Homo sapiens: one gene and its partner. The protein of the gene in region 1 purifies or fractionates together with the protein of each later gene. This does not show direct contact. Each region holds a gene or a part of one and is shown in the gene's direction. Other genes may lie near its edges.

Region 1 (4,123 bases):
CTATGGGCCAGGTGTGGTGGCTCACGCCTGTAATCCCAGCACTTTGGGAGGCTGAGGCGGGCGGATCATGAGTTCAGAAGTTCGAGACCAGCCTGGCCAACATAGTGAAATCCTCTTTACCAAAAAAATACAAAAATTAGCCGGGTGTGGTGGCACACACCTGTAGTCCCAGCTACTCAGGAAGCTGAGGCAGGAGAATTGCTTGAACCCGGGAGGCAGAGGTTGTAGTGAGCCGAGATGGCGGCATCGCACTCCAGCCTGGGTGACAGAGCAAGACTCTGTCTCAAAAAAAAAAAGAGAGAGAATTCTATGTAGTTGAGGAATGAATGGGCCAGTCAGATTCTGCCCTAAAGAAGAGGAAGAATAACTGAGATACCAGCCATTTCCCTTATTTCTCTGACATACTTTTCTTTCTTCGTAGCACCTGGAATGGATAAAAGTGGCAGTTTTTGTTTCTTCCCATGAGGTTGTGTATCTGGACTGAGAACCAGGAAATTAATCTAGACTAAGACATTTCTAAGGACCTGGAATGGCTTTGGGGAGCACCAGGAGGACCCGAAAAGAGTATTTGAGGGCCTAGAGGGACAGAAGAGTTTGCCAGTAGGATTTATGAGAAACAATTGATCAGAAACAGCAGCAGAGAAACCTTTTAGATTTCTTCTGTGGAAAAGTTGAGTCTTGGTTCAAATTAAGTAAAATAAACACTGAAGAGAAATCAAAATCTCAAATATAAAAAGTATGTTACTTATAGTGTAAATTTAGGAAAACAAATGAAAGGACAGATCTTTAAAAATTTTTAACTATGGTGAAATATTTGTAAAACTTTTGGGCTCATCTCTGAGAATTGCTGTGATTCTGAAACTTGATAATATCTCAAATAGAGAACAGTTTCAGTGAAAAATAGCACTTGAGAATAAATCAGATGTTCCCAAGAAAGAAGATCTGAGAATGGTAAAGTGCCACTGACAAATAAATTATTTACATACTTACATATTACCTTGGCAAACACAAGAGACATTCAAGTTAAAGCACGGTGCTTGACAATACTATATTGAATGCAATAAAAGTTGGATTTCATTCATATGTACAACAAACTACTTTCTTCTTCACTTCAAGATTCGGTACAACTGTTCCTGAATTCCAACTCTCCATACATCCCAATGTCAGGGTCCCTGTAGCTCGGAGCCCTTATCCAGGTAGATGAACTGCTGCCCAGTGAACACTATGTACAAAGCAATTTGAGCACCATTCTCTTTTCTGGCAGTGAGGTAAAATCAGGTCTTTTTGGAAGGGGAGAAGCCACATTGCATCTCTGCTACACACAAGATTACTCTGTCATTGCCTTTGAGTCTTTCACGCTCCCTTCTTCTGAAGCATCAGTTTTTATGGAAACTTATCACACCTGTCTTGTGGGCACATCTTGCTCCATCCCTCCTCTCTTCATATTGTCCGTTTTCCGGTATTGAGTTAGGGAAAGTATGCAGGTATTCCTGTCATTCCTGACTGAGGCTGTTGTATCTGTCAAAAGAGAGGAGAGGTAGGGGGCATTCTGAAAAATGATCACTCATGGCTTGCAGGAGCAAGAGCCAGACAGGACTTTGCAACTGGCAGCTTTCTGAGTGCATAAGACCTCCACCTCTAGACTAGCTCTTCAGTCATGGTTAGCCCCTTCAGTCCATTATCCTCCAATACAATGCCCATGCCTTCTGGGGCTTTCAGCTAAGTTTTGTTTAAAAAATGTGGGTTTTTTTTTTGCCAATTCATTAAGGCTTTTCCCTTTGTTTTCTCCTGTTGGTGGTTCAGAGTTAAATTCAGTATGAATAAGAGAGGGAAATATACAACACTGAATTTGGAGGAGAAAATGAAGGTTCTAAGTAGAATTGAAGCTGGACGATCACTTAAAAGTGTAATGGATGAATTTGGAATCAGTAAGTCAACATTTTATGACATTAAAAAAAATAAGAAGTTAATTCTGGACTTTGTACTGAAGCAGGACATGCCATTAGTAGGGGCTGAGAAGAGAAAGAGGACAACGGGAGCCAAATATGGTGATGTAGATGATGCGGTCTACATGTGGTACCAACAGAAACGCTCAGCCGGTGTTCCGGTAAGAGGCGTGGAGCTTCAGGCTGCTGCAGAGAGATTTGCACGGTGTTTTGGGCGAACAGATTTCAAAGCTAGCACTGGTTGGCTTTTTAGATTTCGAAATCGGCATGCAATTGGGAACCGAAAAGGATGTGGGGAACAAGTCCTAAGTTCAGTTTCTGAAAATGTTGAGCCATTTCGACAAAAACTGTCCATGATAATCAAAGAGGAGAAACTGTGTCTAGCTCAGCTATACAGTGGGGATGAAACAGACCTCTTTTGGAAGTCAATGCCAGAAAATTCTCAGGCAAGTAGGAAAGATATCTGCCTACCAGGGAAGAAAATAAACAAAGAAAGGTTGTCTGCCTTTTTATGTGCAAATGCAGACGGAACTCATAAATTAAAGTCAATCATTATTGGAAAATCAAAACTGCCCAAAAGTGTGAAAGAGGACACAAGTACATTGCCTGTGATATATAAACCCAGTAAAGATGTTTGGTTCACCAGAGAATTGTTTTCAGAATGGTTTTTTCAAAACTTTGTTCCTGAGGTCCGACATTTTCAACTTAATGTTCTAAGATTTCATGACGAGGACGTCAGGGCATTGTTACTTCTGGACAGTTGCCCGGCTCATCCTTCCTCTGAATCCCTAACCAGTGAGGATGGTCGAATAAAATGTATGTTCTTCCCCCATAACACTTCAACCTTGATTCAACCAATGAATCAAGGTGTGATCTTGAGCTGCAAACGGCTGTATAGATGGAAGCAACTTGAAGAGAGTCTTGTAATATTTGAAGAAAGTGATGATGAGCAAGAGAAAGGAGATAAAGGAGTTTCCAAAATTAAAATCTACAATATAAAAAGTGCAATTTTTAACTGGGCAAAAAGTTGGGAAGAAGTAAAACAAATAACCATAGCAAATGCATGGGAAAATCTTCTTTACAAAAAGGAACCTGAATATGATTTTCAAGGCTTAGAACATGGGGATTATAGAGAAATTCTTGAAAAATGTGGGGAGTTGGAAACTAAGTTGGATGATGATAGGGTGTGGTTAAATGGAGATGAAGAAAAGGGTTGTCTCCTAAAAACCAAAGGTGGAATAACAAAGGAAGTTGTTCAAAAAGGAGGAGAAGCTGAGAAGCAGACTGCTGAATTTAAATTATCTGCTGTAAGAGAGAGTTTGGACTACCTTCTTGACTTTGTTGATGCCACACCTGAGTTTCAGAGATTCCACTTCACACTGAAAGAGATGCAACAAGAAATAGTCAAGAAACAGTTCCAGAGTAAAATCCATTCTAGAATTGGTAGCTTTTTGAAACCTAGGCCTCATAATATTAAGGACTCCTTCAGTGGGCCTTCAACTTCTGGTTCTAATCATTAGATTTTGTGTTTAAAGATTTCTGCCATTATATGATGTAGGCCAGCTGTGAATTGTCTTGTTTTAGCAACTGACATTATTTTGTATATCAGTGCCCATTTATATAATGGTTATAAAATTTACAGTTTGAAAATAATACATTTGTGTTTCTTTAAATTTATTTAAATTTGTGTTTCATAAATTCATTTTTTTAAATTTTACACAAGGATCTGAATAATGAAGTATTGTCCCAGATTATCTAAGGTGGAATGCCTTTGCGAAAAGCATTAGTTTGTAATCATATCGTATAACAAAGAAACTGTGCTGACTAGTTCTAGTTAGCTTTAAGATAAGGATAAATTAGGTTTTCAATTTAATGGTAAAACACACTCTGCTTTCTTAACTCTGTTACTACCTATTTAGTGTTTGTTTTCCTCTTACTGTGAAAGTAACATGCTGATTATAGGGAATATATAAAAAAAGATAAAAAGCACTCAATTCTATTGACTAATGATAACCTCAACACTTCGGTGTATACCATATATTTTTTAAATAGGCAGATTACATTGTAAATAAAACCTTATCTCTTACTGTCTTAACATATTTTATGGTTTGTTACTAATACGTTAGCATTTATTGAGTATATAGGATCGTATATATATGTTAGTCTTCATAATAATG
Region 2 (2,655 bases), on another chromosome or scaffold:
AGACAGGTTGATTCCTGGGTCATTTGGCCAGACTTTGAGACATCGAGGCCGACCATCTGATATCCAGCCAATGGGCTAAAAACACACTTACTGTGCTTTGCTTCTTATCCTAATCCCTTTTCCCAGGAGGCCACCAGAGAAGATTTAGATGTGCAGGGGAGGGGACAGCAGGCATATATGGGCCAATTGTGGTAGGGAATTAAAATTGCATTTTAGATGTTGATTCAATTCACTTTATATATATGTTCACACTTTCATGTCTTTGTGACAGAAAGATGATTAAGGTTCTTTCTGTCCAGGCTTAAGAAATATGATGACAAACAGCATGTGCTACATACAGCAGGATGCGGCCCCTGTTCCGGATGGAGATATGGCTTTCAGAACTCTTTACAGTACCATTAAAGTCACATATTTCTATAGTCCCAAATATGCTTGGCATTTATTTGCAGTATTTATAAAGTTTAGTAAAATTCCACATTAAACCTAACATGATCTAAGATGTTCGGTAACATGGCCTCTATGCAATGCTGAGCTGTTTCTTTTACTTGGTACAGATTTGATGAGAAGAGAAATTCCATGGAGCCAGGCTTTCCCAAGCAAATAGCTGAAGACTTTCCAGGGATTGACTCAAAGATTGATGCTGTTTTTGAAGAATTTGGTAAGAGGATACTTACTGTGTTGGCCATAGAGCACTTGAAACATTTTATGATATCAGAGGGAAGAGGAGCATTGAAACTTTTTAATAACAAGTGTTTCTTAGGGCCAGTTCCCTTCTCAAAATTTTGATTCGCCTACATTTGTACTCATTATAGAACTACTTCACAAAATAACTTGTTTGGAACCATAAAGATAATTACACAAATCTCGCTACTTTATCTTATACATGCATATAAAATCAAAGTGCTCCAGTGTCACTTACATCTCGAGCTAACATGTGGAGTCAAGCTCGACTTTCAGATTACCATGTTAGCATAAAAATCCCATCAAGTGGTGTGGCCAGGTTTAATGTTGGTTAGCTGGCCTTCTCCTCCACCCTATCTTATTGCTGCTACTAATTCCCAGGGAGATTTTTTGTCTGTCTTTCCTGAGTTGTCAGTCATTGCCCATGCCAGTCATTTGCAAATACTTACCTTTCCATGTGCCCAAAGTTTAAAAAAAAAAAAAGATTTTGTTTTCTACTCAAGGTAAGGAAGTGGAGGCTGATGATCTTTATTGAAAGGTAACCTGATCACCATGTTTGCAGAGCACTAAAGGGTCCCCTGGTGTTTTGAAATAGTTGCTGTGCTTCCTAGGCTGCAATGCAGGGAAAAGGGAGGAGGATTTTTGGGGAAGAAAGAAATAGGTGATGAGAGTTTCCAAGCAAGTGGAGAATTTATCTGATCGGAAGCAGAATAACCCTGTAACCTGGAATCTGGCTGTGTTTTCAGACAGAGCTGGCACCGAGTGCTGTCTCCATTCTTCCTTGCTGAGTAACCTTGAGGAAGCATCGAAATCTGTCTCAACCTCAACTTGCTCAATCTGTAAATGGAGTTAGACATACAACCTCATAGGGTTGTTGCAGAAATAAATGAAAATAAATTCATGTAACAAGCTTGGCATAGTCCCTGACATAAAGTAAAGCTCTATAAACACTTTCTATTTTTAGTTCTCTATGATTCTGAGTTTTGTATATTGTCAAATGTCTTTATTTGGAAAAATATCTTACTATTTCCCTTGTCTGTATTTGCAGGGTTCTTTTATTTCTTTACTGGATCTTCACAGTTGGAGTTTGACCCAAATGCAAAGAAAGTGACACACACTTTGAAGAGTAACAGCTGGCTTAATTGTTGAAAGAGATATGTAGAAGGCACAATATGGGCACTTTAAATGAAGCTAATAATTCTTCACCTAAGTCTCTGTGAATTGAAATGTTCGTTTTCTCCTGCCTGTGCTGTGACTCGAGTCACACTCAAGGGAACTTGAGCGTGAATCTGTATCTTGCCGGTCATTTTTATGTTATTACAGGGCATTCAAATGGGCTGCTGCTTAGCTTGCACCTTGTCACATAGAGTGATCTTTCCCAAGAGAAGGGGAAGCACTCGTGTGCAACAGACAAGTGACTGTATCTGTGTAGACTATTTGCTTATTTAATAAAGACGATTTGTCAGTTATTTTATCTTATTGTTGTGTTTGTTTGTTTCAAGGGCAAGTTGTTCTCATAATTTGGGCACTTTATGGGCTGAGCATGCTCAGCCAGTAGACTAGAGTCTCCATGGCTTGGGGTTCACAATGGGTTCCAGAACTGCAGAGAATCTACCACTTGCCCTCCTCATGAGCCCTGCAAACAGGATGCTTATTTCTACCACCTAGACATTTTATGTGTCCTGACATACCTAAGGCAAAAAATCTAGAGGGGTTGTGACATTGTAGAGCAGGCTCTAGGAAAAACTGTGAAGGGAATCCTATAATCATAGCAAATTGCCTTGTTTGCACATCTCATTTTACAGGGTGAGGAAATCAGACTTGTTTTTCATCTTTTCCTTTTACTTATAAATTCCCTCAGTGCAGGTCCCTCCCCTGACCTAGCAAGCAAACTTCCTCATATCTACCCTATTCACATGGTAAAATATACTCTTGTACTCATTTTGTATCTGCCTGTGCCTGGATGTAAATGCC

What was found.
Region 2: the proteins of TIGD7 (region 1) and MMP3 purify together in Homo sapiens (affinity purification with mass spectrometry; one large-scale study listed by BioGRID and IntAct). This does not show direct contact.

The regions. Positions count from the first base shown.
Region 1 is NC_000016.10:3,298,308-3,302,430, reverse strand, and holds the end of TIGD7 (tigger transposable element-derived protein 7), read left to right. Parts: intron 1-421; 5' UTR 422-1,816; coding exon 1,817-3,466; 3' UTR 3,467-3,623; downstream 3,624-4,123. Other genes in the region: ZNF263 (zinc finger protein 263), read right to left, coding at 3,321-3,325.
Region 2 is NC_000011.10:102,835,301-102,837,955, reverse strand, and holds the end of MMP3 (stromelysin-1 preproprotein), read left to right. Parts: intron 1-554; coding exon 555-658; intron 659-1,189; exon of another isoform or gene 1,190-1,518; intron 1,519-1,729; coding exon 1,730-1,830; 3' UTR 1,831-2,155; downstream 2,156-2,655. UniProt on the Homo sapiens protein: Metalloproteinase with a rather broad substrate specificity that can degrade fibronectin, laminin, gelatins of type I, III, IV, and V; collagens III, IV, X, and IX, and cartilage proteoglycans.